Homo sapiens: one gene and its partners. The protein of the gene in region 2 binds, or shares a complex with, the protein of the main gene of each other region. Links are inferred from orthologs where the notes say so. Each region holds a gene or a part of one and is shown on either strand. Other genes may lie near its edges.

The links. Proteins that work in one complex are often made in the same cells at the same time.
Region 1: the proteins of KCNAB2 (region 2) and KCNA1 are in contact, whole or in part, in a crystal structure (PDB 1EXB), measured with the Rattus norvegicus proteins. The link is inferred for Homo sapiens from one-to-one orthologs. Residues at the interface, in NP_059000.1 of Rattus norvegicus: Met196, Tyr199, Ser200, Arg203, Glu231, Lys235, Ile236; in NP_775118.1 of Rattus norvegicus: Glu37, Met70, Phe73, Asp74, Pro75, Leu76, Asn78, Tyr80.
Region 3: the proteins of KCNAB2 (region 2) and KCNA2 are in contact, whole or in part, in a crystal structure (PDB 5WIE), measured with the Rattus norvegicus proteins. The link is inferred for Homo sapiens from one-to-one orthologs. Residues at the interface, in NP_059000.1 of Rattus norvegicus: Met193, Met196, Tyr199, Ser200, Arg203, Glu231, His234, Lys235, Ile236; in NP_037102.1 of Rattus norvegicus: Asp28, Glu33, Pro62, Met66, Phe69, Asp70, Pro71, Leu72, Arg73, Asn74, Tyr76.

Annotation. Positions count from the first base shown.
Region 1 is NC_000012.12:4,914,392-4,918,756, reverse strand, and holds the end of KCNA1 (potassium voltage-gated channel subfamily A member 1), read right to left. Parts: 3' UTR 501-4,365; downstream 1-500. UniProt on the Homo sapiens protein: Voltage-gated potassium channel that mediates transmembrane potassium transport in excitable membranes, primarily in the brain and the central nervous system, but also in the kidney.
Region 2 is NC_000001.11:6,090,730-6,099,143, reverse strand, and holds part of KCNAB2 (voltage-gated potassium channel subunit beta-2), read right to left. Parts: intron 7,882-8,414; coding exon 7,837-7,881; coding exon of another isoform or gene 7,808-7,836; exon of another isoform or gene 4,764-7,807; intron 4,745-4,763; coding exon 4,659-4,744; intron 3,822-4,658; coding exon 3,701-3,821; intron 3,615-3,700; coding exon 3,520-3,614; intron 2,509-3,519; coding exon 2,388-2,508; intron 1,876-2,387; coding exon 1,787-1,875; coding exon of another isoform or gene 1,613-1,786; exon of another isoform or gene 1,589-1,612; intron 660-1,588; coding exon 570-659; 3' UTR 1-569.
Region 3 is NC_000001.11:110,594,283-110,601,757, reverse strand, and holds part of KCNA2 (potassium voltage-gated channel subfamily A member 2), read left to right. Parts: 3' UTR 1-7,475. UniProt on the Homo sapiens protein: Voltage-gated potassium channel that mediates transmembrane potassium transport in excitable membranes, primarily in the brain and the central nervous system, but also in the cardiovascular system.

The sequences.
Region 1 (4,365 bases), on a different chromosome or scaffold from region 2:
AACTATCAAGTCAGTTGATTCCAGACCACAACTCTGTTACACTCACACACACAGTCGTGTCTCTGTCTCTGTCTCCCTCTCTCTCTCTCACACACACACCCACAATTATTCTTCCTGCAAAGCTTCTCAGACTGTGCATAAAAACTAGTTTCAAATCAAAACAACTTAAGTGGATATAACCAATTACTTTGTTCCCCTGAGCCTCATTTCTTGTTTTATTTTGAAAGCTTGATCCTCCTTCCACTCTAACTTCCACAGGCCAAATTCCAGTGGTCTTCACTTGGGATCTTACCTGAGACCAAACTGAATTTATCCTCAAAAGGTAACCCCCGGATATGTCCTTGGACAGCAGAAACAGACCACGTGGGCCAAAGGAAACAAGTCTGTTTCATGATCTGATCTTGGATTCACCCCACTATTTAAAGAGACCCCACAGAAGAAGGGAAGAAAAGGGCCCCCAAAAGACCAGTTAAACAAGAGACAAATAACCAGTCAAGATATTCCTTGATAAGATCCTTAAAAAGTATCTTTAATTGATGCCAAATATGAACAGATCGTAAAGTGACAGAAGCAAGTAAAATTGCATAGATGAAAACTATGCGCATCAATTAGGTTCTCAATTCATAACATTCAATGTCCTTGACCTGACATATTACACAGTTAGAGAAGGGAGAATGCGCAGTAGGTGAAGATGAGACACGTCCTTAACTCAAGGTGGAAGCAACTGGCAAACTCAAGAAATAAAATAGCGTTTTTTCAGCTTAAATGGTTTGTTGTCCTGATGGTGCACTTTAAATTAATACTACTCAATTTTTATTTTTAACCTCAGTAATACTTTATCTTTACTATTAGAGGCATGTCACATGGAGTCCATGTTGTCTACTTACATCTGCTGCATAAACAGTCCCAAAACAGTGCGCTGAAGAGAAGAAAGGTGCTTCTGCAAGGTTTGGAGAGGAGACAACTTTGACCTGGAATATTTTACAAGAGATTTCTTGTTTTGTTTTGTTTTCTTTCCATACACCATTTCTTCTTCTTTGATTGTGGTACAAAAGTTTTCTATACTCTTTGAAGTTTCACGTCATAAAGAGTAAACTCCTAGTTAGCTCCTAAATGAAAATCACTGTGACTAGGGTTAATCTCCTTAAAGCGAAAAGCCCTGAGGTCAGCAGGGCCTCACCCCTTACATACATGCTGGACTTCCCAAGAAAGCCCAGGGTCATTTTGCCTGAGCAAAGAGGCTGGCATTTAATCCCAAGGCTTCTAAACTTTATATCTGTACCCTGAATTAGTTTGCACAGTGACCCAAGGTAATGGAACAGTTTTGGTTAACAATTCAGCTCCTGTTTGCTTCTTTACAAAAATGGTAAGTAACATACATTCTTTAAAGGTTTACCTGAGTCATACTAGACATGTTCACATATACCCTGAAATTCCATGATATAAATACAGGTAGTAATATGCCACATGGTGAATGAGAGTTCACCTCCTGAGATCACAATTCAACTTGGGTTGTGTCTGGTCTTAAAATTTTAGTTTGTTTGTCTTCTTAAAATGAACATAAACATCAAAAGACTTCATTCTTGCTTGGAAAAGCCTGAAGATAACATGCTTGTTTGGCAGTTTATATTCTTTCTAACAATTTTATACTATGGATGGTTACCACCCACCAATTCTCACCACCCCAGGAATAAGTCATTCCTGGAAGAAAATGGGAAAGTGCCTTCTGCTAATGTTCTTTCTCCTTTCTTTCAATCCAATCTACCAAACTAAGAATTAAAATGTAAAATTGTTAAAAAGCATGTGTTTTGAGGTCTCCTATATTAAATGAGAGGGCTAGGAAACTATTTTTATTGACTTTTAGATGGTACCTAATTTGAAAAACGTGTAACTATACACAATGTGAAGAAGGCCTTTTATAGGCTAAACCAAATTTCTACTTTAAAAAAATGTATTCCTCATTTACCATTTACATGTATTTTTTTAATTCTCAAGCAAATCAAGATTGTGACACCACCTGTGCTTCACGTCCACCATAGTGGAATCTAAACCTGCCCTACAATTCATTTCAGGGAAATGACTGCCCACTGGCCAGAATCCTGGAGAAGGACTTGCTATTGGTTTATCTGATTCTGCAAGGCTCACCCACGAACACACTCCCAATGAGCTGATATAACTGAAAATCAGAACTCAAGTCTCCAGGGAGTGCAAGGGGAGTTGGGCACAAATGGGAAAAGGGAGATGCAAAAACAGAAAGTTTTCCTGGCTAGAATTTGTCTTCTAGAAATCTGAGGACAGAGGAAATGAATGTCTTTGGTCTCTCTGATTCAGATCACTTCAGGTGAGTTAACCACTTCAGAGATTCTGGGATGGCTAACAGCCCTGGTGTGACCAACTCTTCTATTGCCACCCTATTGAACTAGGGCCCCAATAGACTGGAAGAGAGGAATTATAGCTATCAGCACATCAGAAGTCTTCTCCTTCTGGAGAAAACACATAGTCAGGACATGAGCTGTTACAGCTCCATGCCTAGGAAGGGGAAGAAAAGGTAAAAAGGCTGCTAAAATAAATATGAATAAGTAAACCAAAAAATAGTCATCCCTTAATAGGCAGTTTTGTTAAGTGCACCTTCAGGTCTACAAAGACATTTCAACACATTACAGTGCGAGGGTAAGAGCTTGGTCAAACATTGCATGCCTATGCTACACAGATAATCCCTGTACTCCATTCTTACTGAATTCATTGCAATGAGCTACAGATGAGCTAAGCAGCATTCACTTTCCTCACACCACCCCAAACTCATAACAACAACTCACCCCCAGTCCCAGACTGACAGGTTCACCGCATGCAGCACTTTTTTCTATATCACATGCAGAAGAATCAACCAGTCCAGAGTGTAACCACGGTAAATATACCAAATACCCAAAGTCAGTCTTGGTGCCGTTTTCTCATCCATTAACCCATCCATCCCACAGTACTGAGTGGATTATTGCTGTTGACAGAGTGCGGTGTTTCAAGTTCTGTGTGCACTAGACCTCAACGTTGAAATGAAAGATCAAGATAACCCCAAGCCTGGGAGGAGGTTGGCATTTTTTTCCTAATTGGGGATTTTTAAGCAAGTAGGAAAGGAATCGCCAGAATGAGTTAAGGTTCAGACGAGAAGGAGACATCACATGGGAGGGTTTAATGCCCTGTAGTCGGATGCTGCGCAGTTCTTGGCCCCTCATCTTCCACGATGTGTGTTGTGTTCATCTCACAGATTCACAAAAGTCACATAGGAAAATAAGATATCCATGTTCTTTCTTTTAATCGAGTTAGCCAGAATGGGTGTAACTCGAGTTTCTAGGGTGATTGCCTCACTGCTAGTTCTAGGACAGGATGGGGGAAAGGGGTGGGAGAAGCAGGACAGATTTTCAGAAGAAGCTGGGCCAGAATGTCAGGTAACAGGCAGCCACATGCTAAGTGCAGAATGAAGATTCCCCACCTCAGGGTCCTTTGAAAGGCTGTGAGTACCTCTCCACCGGTGGGCAGCTGCCGAGCTCCAGAGGCCTGTGTTCCGTGGCTCTCTTTCAGCCAGGAACAGGGTCCCCACCATTCTCTGGGCTGGGTAACGGGGGGGCAGCAGAAGTTAGATGTTCAACCTGTGAAGTGACTGCCAGGTGGGAAGATCATAGGGGCATCAGGAAATATCTGAAAGGGGTAGACCAGGAGGGAAGGCCTAGGAAAGGTTATTATGAACTGAGTGTTCCCACATCCACAACAATGCCTGAAAAGACTGGACCGTCAGAGAGATTTGCAAAGTGCTGTTACCGACAGAGAAAAAAATAAGGAAAGGTGCCAGGAGCACTACACTGGACCTGAGGAAGCCTTGTGTGTCCAAAGTGGCCCTCGATAGGAAACAAATTCCCAAAAAGTTTATCTTGGCTTTGGTGGAGAGAGGAAAAAACAAGTTCACAGTTCATGTCCAGTTCAAAGATGGGTCTCAGTTCACATCCAGCGTCAGGCTGTCAAAGGGACCAATGCTAGTAGATGGCCAGAGAGACAGCACCCTCCTGGGTCTCTCCTCTCCAGGGTTTAGGGTGGTGTGGTCTTCTCACAGTGGTGAAATGAGAGAGCGAGAATGGAAAAAGAAAAAGCAAAAGGTCTGTGCCCCAACCCTTCCCCACTTTTGCTACCTAACTTCTCAGCTGTGTTAAGGAGGCACTTTCTACAGTTCACTGTGGGTACAGGATAAAGGCACTAAGCAACTATTAAATCAATTGGTTTAGTTTCTTCAGGGAGCCTCAAGGGGAGGGCTGAAGTCTCTACAGACTTCAAAGAATGACTGCAAAGAAAAAAAAATCAGCTCTGCTTCGGATGCATATA
Region 2 (8,414 bases):
GGTCAGGCCCCAGATTCCTGGAGCCCTTGGAAAGTGGGAGGTGGAGGAAGACCCCCAGTGGGGAGGCCCTGCCCCAGCAACCAAGGCCCTGGCAGAAGGGGCCCCTCGATGGGCCAGACCCCTTTCCCCTCTCCCCCTACACCAAGTGGGGATTCTCAGCAGAGGAGAGGCTGGCCCTGCCCGCCCCAAGGACCCAACCAGGCCTTGGCCTGGCCTTGACTTTGGGAACCTTGGAAATCTTTGGGCCTTGACTTTGGGAATCTTGGCTGTGGCTGGGAGAAAGCTGGGTGGTCTTGGAGGATGAGCAGAGGTGACAGGCTTGGGTGGGACCGTTTGAACATCCTTCCTAACCAGTGCCTTCCCCGGCACAGACTGGACTTCGACATTGTCCGGCGAAGCAGTGGGTGGTGTCTGGCAGCGACTTGGGAGATCATTTCCCGATGACATCACAGTGTGGTGTTTTCTCTTGGATGCAAACCACACTCTTCACTTGGCTTCAAAACAGCTTAAGCGAGCGAACAGAGACTAGGAGGGAACGGAAACTGTCCGAGCAGGCGGGCGGGGGCGGCTTAGGATCTGTAGTCCTTTTTGCTGTAGGGTTTATTGCCCAAAATACTATCAATCTCGTGGATAATGGAAGATGACAGTTTCGGAAGGACCTGCGTGCAAGAACAACAACAAATCAGAATCCCACCAACAAGACGGGCCTGGCCTGGGGAGGAGGTGGGGCCAGGCTCTTCCAGATGGTCGGCTGGCCAGGCCCGGGTTGCCCCATCACATCTGGGCTCCATCTGAGGCAGATGGAGGCCACGCTGCTTTTGTGTTTCAGAAGGTTTGGGGCAGAGAGGAAGCATGCCTGGGTCTGTGCACTCCCTCTCAAATGTCAAGGTGCCCTAGAACCTTCCTGAAGGGTGGTGGCAGCAGTGACATAAAATGGAAACTCCAGGCCAAATGCTGGACTTCCATGTCCGTGACTGCTTTTTCCAGCTGCGCCTGCCTCAGCATACAGCACCGCCACCCTTCCGGGTGACACACCCGGGGACCGACTTCCACCTCGCCTTCTCACCCCCACATCCAGTTTGTCAGCCAGTCCCGGGGGCCCCACCTTCCCAAACATCCAGGATCCAACCACCACTCCCGTCTCGGACCCGCAGCTGCCACTTCCCACCAGGGCTCTCTGCTTCGACTTTTGCTTCCCAAAGCCTCCCCGATGGAGCAGCCGGAGAGCAGCCTCCCTTTCCAGGCTGAGCTGCAGCTCGCCCTCCTCTGCCCACAATTTTGCCACGGCTCCCGTCTCACTCAGAAGTCCCTGGAGGTGTTTCGTGCCTCTCAGGATCTGCCCCTCTGCTCCAGGCCTTTTTGGGCCTTTGCATCAACTCTTCCTGCTGGTGGAAGGTTCTTCCCGCAGGCATTTGCGTGACTTACTCCGCATCTCTCAAGACTGCTCAAGCACCACCTTCTCAACAAGCCCACCTGACAGGCCCCCTTGAACCTGAGTCTGCAGCGCCACCGTCCCTGGCCCCAGCTCCCTCCCTTTATCTCTGGCTTCTCTCCTACAGCGCTCGTCCACCCTGACACACATTCTAACCTCCTTGTTTCGTGCAGTTAGTGTTCATGTCTGTTCCTGCTGGAAAGCAAGCTCTCCAGGAGCACAACTCTGATGGTTCACGGGCGCATCCTGAGTGCCTAGAACAGAGCCTGGCACGCAGGACGAGCCTGGGAGGATGCACTGGACGGGGCTCGGGCTGGGATGGGCCCTCTGCCCAGCAGGGCCTCTCACTCTTACCTGTATTGCCCCAATGTTCTCCATGAGCTGGTCCGCATTGGAGGCCCCCAGGAGCACGGAGCTGACTCCCTCATTCCTCAGGCACCAGGCTGTGGCGGCGAGACCCAAGGTGAGGGAGAAACACCCACCACAGGGGCCCCTGATGGGTCTGCCTTGCCTCTGACTGGGCCGAGAGACCCAGCATCTTGGTCTGGGGGTCTGAGGGGGTCTAGGAAGCCCTGCAGTGCTGGGCACGGGCTTTGTCTAAGAGGTGGCTGGAGGAGGCATGGGGGAGCCCGCTGCTCCCTGATGGAGAGGTGGCCCAAGTGCTTAGCGCTCCCCATCCTCTTCCCATGAAAGCGGGAGCCCCATTACCTATGGCTGGCAGATGGAGGGGGTGGCCCAGGTCCTCAGGGACTCCTGACATCCCCCTAGAGGCATGGGGTCCCAACCATGCCCCTTAGAGCCCGATTACCCGAGGCTGGCTGGGGGATGATGTCCAGGGATCCCTTCCCTCTCTCCCCGGAGACACTGGCCCCATGGCAACCCCACCCTGTTACCTACGGCCAGCTGGGGCAGGTTCTCCCCAGGGGCACTGGCCCCATGGCGACCCCACCGTTACCTATGGCCAGCTGGGGCAGGGTGCAGCCCAGGCGCTCGGCGATGGCCTGCAGCTCCTTCAGCTTGGCTTGCTGGCGCCGGCCCTCCTCACTGAGGATCTTGTCCTTCAGCCACTGGTAGCCCTGGTTGCGGGGGAGGGGAGCAGCACAGCTACAGATGAGAGCAGGTCACCTGGACCCCCACGTGCAGGGGGCCGATGGGCTCATTCCTTCTGGACCCTTCTCCCTCATAGGGGCTCTTCTCATCTTGAAGCCAGGGCAGTGCCCCTGCCCCAGGCCTCTCAAGTAGGGGAGAGTGGGCAGTGGGCCGGGCACGGGCTGGTGGATGAGCGGGGCCTGTCCAGGCTCTGAAGTGCAAAGACTGTGGTGCTGGCCCAACCCCAAGTCAGGACAAGGAGGCGAGGTGCTGGCCTTCCTTCTCTTAGGAAACTTGGCAGCCTGGGGTCTCGGCTGCCACCCGTGGCCCAGAAGAACCTCCTGGCCCTAGGGGAGTGCTCTCTCCCCTGGCCATCCCCCCCAGAGGATTGCAGGGCCTCCTGGAGGGGGGCCCTGACCTTGCCATGGGATGGGAGGAGTCGGGGGCCAGGCCACGTTGCCCTGGAACCCAGGGCTGTGGGCCCCAGTGCTGAGACTGCTGGCTGGGCAGACTTTCTTGGCCTGCTCCTTGTTCTCCAGATCCTGCAGTCTGGGGACCCTCCTGAGTCCCCACTCAGAGGTTGTGTGGTGGGGAGGGGCGCCTCTCCCAGGGTCACCTCCATGTGGCTTTGCAGCCCCCATCTCGGAGCCCAGGCCCAGGGGTCTCAGAGTTCTGAATGCTGGGCTGTGGTGGGGGGCAGAGGTGGGGGATGTGGTAGGGGGTAGAGATGGGGGGATGTGGTGGGGGCAGGGGGGGGGATGTGAAAGGGCCTCTCCACTTGGGCCTGTGCCACAGGCTGGGCAGCCCCTCTACACATGGGATCAGGCCAGGAGGGGCTCCATGTTCTCACGCCAAGGAGCCCGCCCCCAGCAGACCGAGGTGGGAACAGCTGCAGCTCCCGGAACCCCTGCCCAGCACCAAAGCAGTCGGCCCAAAGGTCCCACCCGTCCAAAATGCCTATCCCCTGCCCGTCCCTCCCCACCAGGCTGTTCCTTCACCTTCAAGGAGGCTCTTGAGTAGGGTGGGATGCCACTGTCGTACTTGCCAGAAACAATGCCACAGGCCAGAGGGGACCAGGTCATGGCGCCCACTCCTGAAGAGGAAAAGCAGGTGGAGTCAAGCCCTGGGCCCGAGAGCAGGGGTGGGGTGGGGCGGGGCGAGGGGCCCGAGGGTGCCCACCTATCTTGTGGAACAGCTCCGGCAGCTGCACCTCCACTTTCTCACGCTGGAACATGTGGTACTCAGCCTGCTCGCAGATGGGCGGGGTCAGGTTGAACTGCCGGGCCACGGAGTAGGCCTCCTGTGAAGGCAGAAAGGGACCCCGAGGGCCCTTGCCTGTGAGCAGGCGGGAGGCTGCCGGGGCAGCCATGGAGAGGGCACCAAGGTGTCCCCGGAGCAGGCTGGCCCAGCAGCTGCAGCCCGGGCTCCCCACTGCTCACACTCATAGCTTCCCTGGGAGCCAGGCAGGCCCTGGTGAGCTGGGAAAAGGAGGTGGGTGGTGGGACCCCCAGGCCGGAGGGTCCAGTTATGAGCAGCCCAGGCTCTGAACCACACAGCCTGGATGTTAATCTTGGCCCAAGCTGTGTGACCTTGGCATGTTACTGAACCTCTCTGTGCCACAGTGTCCACATCTGAAAAATGGGCTGCCTGCGGCACTCACCTGGTAAAGGCACCGGTGAGGATTGCATGTGAGAGGGTCCCTGTGGAACCCTTGACCCTAACAGCACCGGGCACGTCTCAGGAGCCCAGTGGAAACAGCTGACGGTGTTGTCACCCCAGAGTGCTTGCTGAGCTCCAGGGCATCTGCTAAGAGCTTCACACTGGCTCTCTCAGGGACTCCTTAGAATGGCCCCATGGGGGCTCACCTAGCAGATGTGTTCTACAGGTGGGGAAACAAGCTCAGAGACGTTAAGCCATTTGTCCAGGGCCACACAGCGCTGGGATCCATGCAGAATCCCCGTCTGCAAGGCCTACAGACATAACCACCACACTCCACCATCCTGTCCCTCCCTTAGCACCCAGGCATCGGTGCAGTTGGGACCAAAGGCACAGACCCCGCCAGAGCTTTGGGGTCTCCATACGCAGCCGGTGCCGGGAGTCTGTGCCTGGACACACACATGCTGCGCGGCCACCGTACCATGATCTCCATGGAGCTCCAGCGTGACGTGCCCCAGTACATGGCCATCCCCTGGTTGATGACGTGGGTCATGGCGCGGACGGTCTCTGTCGTGAGAGAAAGGGAAACCGCAGGTGGGGGGCAGCCAGGGCTCAGGGCCAGCCTCGGGACATTCTGCAAATACAGGCAGGACGCTGGGAGGAGGGACAGGGGCTGCGAAGATGTCTTGCAAGCAGTGTACTTCCTGGCTCTGAAGTTGGGTGTGGGAGGGGTTTTTTGGGATGAAAGAGAAAAGTGAACCACAATCCTAGAAGTTGGTCGTGAAAACAATTTCCCCGACTGGTTACAGGCCTATGGAAATGTTGAAAAATGGGTTATGGATGGACCGTGATGTTTCTATGGTAGATTAGAGGGGACAATCAAAGAATGTGGCTCTGGACTCTAGAACTGGAGGTTCTCTGGTCTGGGGAAGATTCGAGGGCCCCGATCACTCAGGAAGGACCAGGTGAATGCATGAACGTTACAGTCAGATTGGCGGCAGGAGGGACATGTGTTTTTGCGTTTCTGGTCTCCTACTTCGGGCTATTCCAAAGTCTAATTGGAACAGAGAGTGGGCTGGATAAGGAGATGTGGCAGGACCTGGGGCGCCATATGGTCCCGGAGAATAGGGCTTCGGGGCTGAGCTCATGTTTCCTGTCATGTCCAGGAGACTGAGAAGTGGGCGTGGAAAGCCTTGTAAGACCATGGCCCAGGTTCTCAAACCAGCCCAGCACCAGGCCAGAGTCCCAACCCGCCTGTCCCCTGGCAAGGGGTGGTCCCAGGGCCACAGGGGTCTGGGTGCTCCTCCTGTGAGGGGCCAGGGCCTGGAGTAGGACAGTTTTGAGGCTCCATGAGCCCTGGGAACAACCTGAATCGTGGACGGCGGAGACTCCTAAGGCCCTGAGGATGAAATCGCGGAGACTTCACGCTGGCCTTTTAAAGAAGAGAGGAGGGACCCTCGCCCCAGCGACACAGTGGATTCTTCCCAATATTCAAACATGGCTTTGAGACACAGCAATCTGCTGGTTATAGCTCCCTCTCAGCCTCATGGGGATATTGTGATTTTAAAAACAGAACTTGGCGTCGAAATTTCAAATTTCAGAAGCCTCTGAGCTTTGCAGGGCGAGGGACTATGGCGCTAGGCTTCTCACGGGTCGGATACAGTGCTTGCAAGTTCGACCGCCAAAGGCAGTGTGGGAGTGAGTGGGAGTGCAAGTGTTTCTAAAGACAGCAACAACGTTGACCCTGGAAAAGCCCTGGCTCTCCCTCAGTGCCTGCTTGTCCTTTGCCCATGCTGCGTGGAAGCTGAGGTCCTGAAAATGCTGGGAGTGGGGCTGATGGGAAGGAAGGAAGGATGGAAGATGCTGGGTTTGTTCTGCAGGCTCCCCCCTGGAATGGCAACGAGGCCACAAAGTGGCAGTGCTGGCTTCCCGTCCACTTCTGTTTTGGGGGTCGCTCCCTGAGTGCCCCTTTACTGAGGTCCACCCTGAGCAGAACCTGGGGCCTCCTAAAGGCTAGAGCTGAGGCCACTGGGGTTTCTGGAGTGGTGGTCTCGGCAGACTCACCCAGGACCCCTGGCAAACCACCCTTGGCTTCCACGCTTGCAGGCCCAGCCCTGCTCTCTGCTTACTTCCAAGGTCAGAGGTTGTAGCTCCTGGGAATCCTCTCTGTCCCCTCCTGGGGGTGGAGATCTGGGAGGGAGTCTGAACTCTCTGGGCCACCTCCCTGGGCCACCTGCTTTAACTGCCAACTCCGATAGACCCTCAGGAAGTGCCTGGTTGGGAAAGTTTGAGGAGAACCTAGAGGGTCCCAGGAGAATCTCTGACTACATCCTGCCCAGGTCCGGGCTCCTGGCCTGCCCGGCCTTGTGGTTTTTTAGAAACACTCTCGGGGCACCTGTGAGCATGCAGCATCAGTTCCCGATTCTTCTCAGCCAAGGCTTAGGTCCACATGCCAGACAGAGGGAAGCCAAGGCCCCCAAGGCCAGCCCCGTTCCCTCACTCTCCCTCCCCGGCAGCTGTCTCAGGTCTCCAAGGTCCCAGCCAGTGAAACCGCATGCTGCCCTGCGGCGCCCCTTCCATGCAGTGATGGAGAGACGGGGCTGACGGGGCAGGAGCCTCTGGCTGTCCTGAGGTGGGGAGTCCTAGGCAAAGGCCCCTGGGCTCCCTGGAGGATCTGGGCAGAAGCAGGCTGGACAGGGAGCCCACATGAGGGAGCACCCTGCACTTGTGCCCAAGTGTGATATCAGTGGCCCCAGACCCAGGGACAATTAGGGACAACTGTCCTTCACCTCAATATTTAATGGGGTTGAACGGAAGTAGGAAGACTGAATCCTTCTAGCTGCTGCCAAAACTCACAGCATCTCCTGCCGCATCACAAATAATACATGGGGGTTCAGGTGGCAGCACCAGTTGGCAGACAGGGGCCCAGGCCCAGGGAGATCGACACCTGCCCTTGGGGTGGGGTCCTGGGGCCGTTAGCTGTGGGGAGGGCAGAGAGACTGTGCGTGGCCAGAGGCCACCCCCTGGTTTCAGAAGGCTGCCGGCTCCTGTGGTTATTCTTTCAGGAGGAAAATGATTCCACGTTGATGGAGCGCTTTGGCAACCTGGTGAGAGGGGACACGCAGCCAGCATGCCGTCCGAGGAGCAGCGTGCTGTGGACGGGGCAGCGTGACAAGCCAGGTGATCTCTGCCTCCAGGAGAGACAGGAGCTTAGCAAACATAAACCATGGAGGAGCTAAGACTCGGTGGGGGGCCGCGTGTTTTGGGGTCCCTGATGGCTTTGCTCCTTGTGGAAACCTGGTCTTCCCCAACCCTTCCCATGGCACCATCCAGGGTCAAGGCTCCAGGTGGGGATCACAGCATCCTCAGATCAAGAGGACCCCCGGCCGCCGCGGAGCTCAGCAGTGCAAGCCCAGGGGTGGGGGCCATGCACGGGAGGAAGGAGGAACGAGGGGATGGGGGGCTGGGGGCGAGGGGCTCCAACACCACTTTGCTTTTCCTTCACTTGCAAGGTGTTCTCATAGGGTGCTCTTTCCCCTCTTTATGCATTTTATGGAGAAGTTTCTCATGGGGTAAAAGAATCATGTAAATAAAAATACTGTCTCATAAAATGCAGCTTGGACACAGAAGTCAATAGTCAGGCTGGGGGCACTGTGTACCTTCTATGATGAATGTCCTTGACTTGGAGGAACTAAATGGGTCCCCTGGTGATAGAAGAAAGATTTAAAGAGACCAGAGTTGATAGCTGGGAGCACTGAGAGGCGTGGCACGACGAAGGCACAGCGGGGAGGCACAAATCACCGTGCAGAACACGCGTTTAGTTAAAAAGGAAAAAAATATATCAACACACGCACGTGCGTGCTGTATATGAACAAATAAAAAACAATAACTGGAACACAATTTAACTTTCAAGTCCCTGCAGCAGCAAAGCACACATGGAAAGACGCCTGTAGCAGGAGGATGGGGGAGCGGAGGGGGCTGAGATCGCAGGAGTAGAAAGAATAAAAAACGCCAAAGTAACCAAAACCGATTTTCAAAGCGCTGAACGCTTCTTCTCCTCTATGTAGTAATTTATCCCCCAGAGCAAAAAAGTCCCCCCAAGCTTCCCAATGGATGGTGATTGGAGAGAACACCGCAGTTGGAGTCCCCACACTGCGACTTCACTTAGCTGCAAAATAGCAGCCGCAGAGGGGAGGGGACAGTTCCACTGCGGCTCTGACTCGGAGGGCGGATCGGC
Region 3 (7,475 bases), about 100 Mb from region 2:
TCAGGAGCAAATCCACTGCTTGGTGGGTTGGCTGTCTAAGAGGCCTAATGGGTTAATTTGTCTCATTGGTAACCCCACTGGGCCTGGGTTTGCTGCCATTGCCTCAGACACTCCGGTATCCATGGATTCCTAGACGTTAGAATTGTCTTTCTGCCCTCCATGTGCTGCAGCTTCAGTTCCCATGGCTGAAGCTTGTCTTACTGAGTGCACAAGGGCCCTGTGGCCCTCACAGTTCCAGCTGTCCTGGGCCAGACCCACCCCGGGCCTCCTCTCTACAGTTCATCCTGTTCATCATCTCCATTTTCACCTCTTCCCTTGCCACTTGGATCTTATTATCATTTGGCTCTGCATCCGTCACTTTCACAAACCTTTCGCTAAAGAGCCAGAATGGATCCCCTGCTTTGAAACCAAGGACACCAAGGAGTAGGACTCCCTGGGACCAAATTCCACTGATCTGGACCTAAAGGGAGCCTCCTCTATGTGGAAATGTCTGAAGTCCGGGACTAAGTGATGGAGTCCCTAGATGATCCAAAGGCATCATTTTGATCTCCAGACCCAAACTCTCTCCCCATTAAACTGGCAACCAGAGCTGCTTTTTAAAAAGAACCAAAGGATGGGTAAAGAATCATTTCCCACCCCCCAGAAGAAGTAGAGTGCAAATGAGCACTGCACAGCCTAAAGGTAGACAGTAGGTTGACCCTGAAATGGCTTCAGGTAGGGGGCTTTTAACTCACCAGACTGGGCGTCTTTGCCTTTTGACGGAGTAGCTTAATTTTCCCAAACAGTGAATTGCAGGGGTCGGGCTATGCAGGGGTGGCTCCAGCCCAGGCCTCACTGCTGCCTAGTTAGCACCTACAGTTGTCTTGGGGCATGGGGCACCAGCTCAGGGTGCTAGGCCCAGGGTGCTCATTAGTGCCTGGTCACCCACATCCCCAGGTATCTGCAGGGCATCCCATGCCCAGCACAAAGCCTCTGTGCTTCTCTTCCTCTCCTTCATGGGAGGTGGTGCTGAATTTCCAAGGCATGGGGTGGGAGGGACACAGATCTTTGGAAAATAGAAGGTAAAGCAACCCATATCTGAGGCCTAGGTCAGGGATAGATATCTTATCACAGTGTCCTTGGCCCAGGACTCTAAAATGTTCACATACAGTCATGCACATTCACCACAAAATAGGTACACTGTTGTCACACACAAACATAAAACATGTAACGTGCAAAATACAGACAGACCAGGTTAACATAAAAGCAAACACAGAAGATATATGGTTATAATTGTATATAAAATGCACACTCTGCACAGATATAGAATTTACACAGAACATACACAAAAGACAAACATACACCACATACAAATATACAACCTGAAACTCAGATGCAAAATACATAAAAAACTACATGGACAAAATGCATATGCATATAAGATACACAAAGGCTACTTTACCATTGTTTCTACACATAAAATACACACAAACTCAGTATATACACACGATGCATTAACTTATAATAGGCATACAAGATACATAGCACACATGCCCAAAAATATCGCACAATACACATGAAATGCAGACATATACTCAGACCCATTGCCCTGCCCCCAGAGCTATGAATTAACAGGCACAAACAAAAGATCAGATGTAATCACCTTTGCCTGGCCTGTGTCTATATCCCCCAGGATCTTTCAAGGAATCTCTTTCTCTATTCTTTTCTCTCACTACCAGATTTCACTCCTGAGAAGTAACTCCTAGGTTTCAAGCAGGAGGATGGGCCACCACATCAAGCAGATATCTGACTAAGACCAGGAATTGCATGGGGTCTCTACCAATTCACCTTCCTCCCACCAGAAACCTGGGTGCAGGGTGTGAAAGTACCTGGGACAGCTGGTAGCCTAATATAGGCCTCCTTGCCATGACCCTTCCTTCCTTCCAGCAAATCCGCACAGACAACCCAATAGCCCAGGCTCCCCTTCTCCCAGCACCTGGGATCTCCAGATTCAGCCCTATTCTCTTAAAAGCAGTAATGGCTCAAGAAACTGCAGGATCTTGAGCCCAGGACCAGGGTAAAGATGTCCCCAACATTCTCTAAGCCCACAGATTTTATTGCCCTTCCATCCTTTGCAGCTTTGTTGGGGGCACGGTCAGGAAGTTGAGACCCTATAGAGACCTGTCTCTTAAAATGAGCCACCTTTACTTGCTTGTGGCATTTCACTTGCTCTTGTGCATAAGCCCAAAGGGGCCAACTCCTGATTCCCCTCTGGGTGTGTTCAATCCCGGGCACGCTCTTCCTTTTCCTCTTGTTGGGCTCCCCTGGATGCCCTGCCTCCCATCCAATTGCTATGCAACCCAGTTCAGCTTAAGTAAAAAGTGATTAAGAACATACATCTAAGGCTAAGCAAGCTAACACTTTTTAGAGGGCCTGACTTTATCCTATATTCTAAGGCCATATTTAAATACTTTCTAAGATTACCCACCATTTTGGATTACTCTTGGAGCTGGTTCTTCCCCTAAGTAGGACTAGCTGAGAGCTGAGTGCATTTTAGCAAAGGCTTCACCTACATCGGAAGTAAAGAGTTGCAGTCAGGCTTTGGATCAGGCCTCACTCCTGATTTCTGCTCCTGCAGCCATCCCGTTGTGTCTCACTCTCCCTTCCAGTGATGGTCGCAGCTCCCAGTCTCTACAGAAAAGGTAACAACAGTAGGGAGTGGACATATGGGTCCAAAACGTGTGCTTTGCTGGAAACTTGTGTTTCCAGGTCAAGGTACCATTCCTGTTGGCTTCATCAAGTGCCTCTGTGGATTCATTTTCAAGAAACTTGGAGTTTTCAGGAGACCGAAAAGGAATAGGCCCAGGAAAGGTGGAGAGATTGTCAGGAAGAGAGAGTGGCTGAGTGGGTCAAATTTCAGAGTAAACTTTTTAGGAGCCAACATTTAATTAAGAAAATAATTAAGGCTCTGTGCTTTCTGAAACTTCAGTAATATTTGACATGCTCTCTTCCTTCTTCTCTGCTTGCCTCTGTCCCTCTCACCTGTGTTTCTGAGGCTAGTGTTGGCATGTCACCATGAGGTTAGCCTTTTAAAAGGGGCCCCACGGGAGTGTGCCTCTAGATTGCGTTAGCCTAGTATGGAAAGGGCTCCCATGGAAGCTATGATGGCCTGAGACCCCAGCCTGGGTGTTCATGTTGCTGCTCCGTGTTGGGAGGGCCCAGGACTAGCTTGTTCTACCTATTCTTCCTGGATCTCTCACTATATTATAGTGAGGACTCTATCAGTATCAACCCATGTGGAGAGAGGACAGCACCCTCTGAAGCTCCTCAGGCTGGGGATTCAGCACTGCCCACAGTAGTAGAGTCACAGAGGCTGACTCCCCCCTAAGGAAACTATAGAACAGTGTGCAAATTGCATATGAAGGTGGCACCACTACCCCTATGTCAGGCAGGGGAGCACAGTGCTTTGACTTGTTTACTCAAGAGAGGGGATGATGGTGCTGAGCTCTGCTCCCCAGAGCTTTCCTGGGGCCCATTGTCATAATAACTTGTATGTGGGTGATGGCCGCCTCATCTGCGAGGGCTATAATATCCATGGTGCTCCTTGGTTGCACAATGGAGGTTCCCCTAGCCTTGGCAAGGTATCCATTGCCGGGTTTGAACTCATGACCTTAACCTCATTAACATCATCAGTCACCTGAGCCAACGCGCAGAGAGGGGGATGCTGGGAGCTCTCTCAGTAGCTATTGTGACCATCATCTATATCTTCAGACTTAGCCCTTGTTGAGTCCAACCCTGTTCCCCTATCAAAGCAACCAGCAGGGACAGATGGAGGTAGGGGCTCCCCTACATGCAGGAAGGTTCTCTTCCTCAAACTAACCTAGTTTACTTTTCCTTTTTTTCTGCTTCCCTTCCCACCAAATCTCAGCTTCATCTCTCATAGTTTGTGTTTGAATATTTTTAAAGAGGAAAAGTGCAATAAAATAAATAGTGACTGTTTTCTTTAGCAATAGCTCTTTCAAAATCTTGCTCTCAGGACTGAAAAGTGATAGATAGTACCTGGATTATCAGATAATGCCCTTGACTTCTGGGGGCTCATTCACAGTCTCTGTAGTTTCTTCTTCTTCCCACGTGTTCACATGACTCCTGTCCTCTTGAGATCTGACCTCCTTCTGGAATGGACACATATGCTAAGATGCAGTGTATGCACAAGGAAGGCCTGTGAGAGGGCTTTGTCACTTTGTCTCCTTCCTGTGTGCACCTCTCTGTCTCCATGTGTGTCTCTGTCCCCTCTCCCTCTGTCTCCCCATTTCTGCCTGCTGTCATACAGCATCCTTACAACCTCTAGGCATGAAAATCCTAAGTTTGTGTGACCTTTTCAGCCCATTTTGTTGACTTTCCCTCAGTCTGGCAGATGTAATGGAAGCCTACACGAAAGCACTTCCCAATAGATAAGAATAAAGCATCCTGAGCCATTACAGAAGATCATTTCCATGCACTAAAAGCCATTACTTGATCCTTTTGCTTCCCCTTCTCCCTTCCCCAGGGAGACGGATGCTGAGGGAATGTGGCCTGGAGGTTTGCACTTGGGATCAGTAGCCTGGGCAGATTTGGGAATTGCCCTCTGACTCTCTTTCAAAATAAGCTGACTTGCTCAACCAAAGGGACTCCGTGAGAGCTGCAGAAGGAAGCAGGTTCTTGTGGGTTTCAGTAGAAGTCTACAGGGATAGAAGTTTGGGTGGTTAGGGCATGACATTAGTGAAATAAAGACTCTACCACCCGCTAGAGTGTGCAGCTGCACAAATATTTGCACACATAGCCAGGGGCTTCAGAAGAGTCCCCTTTCCTAACATCTGTGAGCTTAAATGTTCAGACTGGACAATCAGGGAAGGCTGGCAACCCCAGGGTCCCATTCCATCCTTTTTTGATCTACCTTGCTCTATACACATATGTACAGCAAAACCTCAGTTAACTGATGGGGAAACCTCAGGGACAGGAACATCCTGATTGCTTTGCAATTTTGGTTATTTGAGTGGGAATGGGAAAGCATGTCTGGTTCAACCTTTGTTATTGAGAAAAATATTTCCTAAGTAGGTTAGCATAACTTTCCTGCCTTAGTTAAGTAGAGTGTTTGAAGATAACAGGGACCTTGCCTTGCTCAGGGTCAACATTGTAAACCTCAATGCTTATTGTACAGTAGTGGACATAGGTAGAGAAGACCAAAGAGACAGGCTGAATGGCTGCTGGCTACAAGACAGGCCTGGAAATGGGCCACTGGGGCACATCCTGGCTCATCGGAGCCCTTGCTGTCATTTGCCTCTTTCTACTGAAAGGATAGTAAGAAAACATAATTCTTGTCAATCGAGGTTTTGGTTAATTGGTCCTGAGTTTTTAGAGGTTTTCCATATATACATATATTTATGTGTGTATATATATATATATAGTATATGTATATATGTATACTATTTTTAAATTATAGAATTATACATTGACCAATCTCCTTAGTTTCACTTATGTGGAATAAATTTGGCAATCCAAGGAATAAACTGCATTTATGTGCATTTTTTGAATGACCTCCTTTGCATTCTTTTCACCTCTCCAGTTCTACTCTTTTTTTTTCTGCTTAGGGACCTCTCTAGAAGGCAGATCTTTCATAAAAAAAGAACAGGCTACAGGATCACCTCTTTCCTTTCCCTCCCAGGTGGCTGCCTGACTCAGGGATAAAAGGGAAGTCTGATCTAACAGCCAGGTGCTTTAGCCTTTCTTCTGTCTGCCCTGGTTGGCTATAACCTCATCACTGAGGATCAGAAAAGTTATTCCAAACTTTGTACTCGAGGGGAGTGGAAAGCTTGAAGACCTGGCAAAGGATTTATCTATTTAGCATTCTCTTTGTCATTGGTGGTGCCCTAGGTTTGAGGTTTGTGAGATCTGAAAGTAACATTCCAATGAAGAACTAAAGCACATCTCTGCCACACAGAAGGTGAGGTTTGTGGCAATCAATGGAACTAACAAATCCATTCTGTTTTTTATTATGACTAAACCTAAGTTGAGGGTGTGGGTATTAGAGCAGCTGAAATTCAGTTGCCTCTTTGGGGGTAAGCTGTACACATCACTCAAGAAACAGCTGGATGCAAGCTAAAACCTGCTCTCATTCTCCCTCTTGCCTGCTAGTGTGTTAGATCCATGGAAGACAGTTTCTCTCAGCCTCACCTCTTGCATTTGACTGTTGCTTTCTACCTAGATGGGAGTGGGAGGGATTTTTCACTGTATCTGGAGCAATTGAAGTGGTGCAGGGGTGTCTGCCATCTCCCCACACCCACAGAAGCCCTCCAGTCTGGCTATGTTAGTTGTGATCAGGCAGCAGAAGCCCATAACCCAGACTTGACATGACCAGCTGGTGCACTGAGGCAGTTGAGGTGGCCTGTCTGGATGGCTACTTCTTGTACTTCATGAACCTCAGCATGGAAATGGATATAACTTTCTGTGCTCCTCTGCACTCCTAAAATAGTCTAATATGTTCCAGATGAGTTTGCAGCTGAGAACTCCCTGCATCATTCCACTGATGGATGCACAGGGCATGATTATGTAATAATGTGGACAGCTACTGCAACATCTAGATCATTGAGGGCAGTGTAGATGTGGCTGTGTGCTAGGACCCTTGGTAGCTATCCAGAGGACTCAGTCTGGTGTCTTTCTGAGTCTCTGTGAGAGGCCTCTAAGCCCTGCTTCTCCTTGAAAATGATTCCCTAGACACCGAATGCCTTGTTTGTATGAGTGAATAAATGCTCTGGGCTGCTAGAGAAAGCAATAGGAGGAGCTGGGAGGAAGAGAATATTCAGGGGCGCACTTTGCTACCAAACAATTTCCATGTCAGCTGCTAACATTACTGCCTTTTTAGCCTATGAAGTGTAGGGCAAGGACTTTGACCTGCCAGGTGGGGCTGGAAAGGAGCACATCAGCTCCAGGCTAAGAAATGGGATAGAAAAGCAAGAAGAGAGGCCTGGCTGGCTTTGGCGGGGGTGAGTCTCAGCTCCTGAGGGTTTGAACATGCTCTGTGCTTGCCCCAGTTCTGCCTTCACGTGGGATCCAGCGACCCAGTTTCCTTTTGTTGTCGTGCTTGGATGGTTCCTTCATTTGAAGGGCCCCAGGAAGCTGGAAAGTCCCATGATCAAGCTCTAGCCTGCTGAGCAAACAATACCCCAGCCAAATTGGCCTCTTCCTGGTTTTCTGCATCCCTGCACCCCTCTCTCCACTAAGGATAATCTTGGAACAGTTGCGATTAATGGTGCCAGCAATCAAGGAAGATTCTCTAGTTTTCATCAGGGACATAGCTGTAAAGCTCATGAGTGGAGGATGCTATTTCCTTTTCCAGACCTGTGTGCTTATGTGCTTATATAGGCTGCCTCTGGAGACTTTATATTGTGTGTGATGTGTGTGTATATATATATACACACACATATATATATATATGTATATATATATATAGAGAGAGAGAG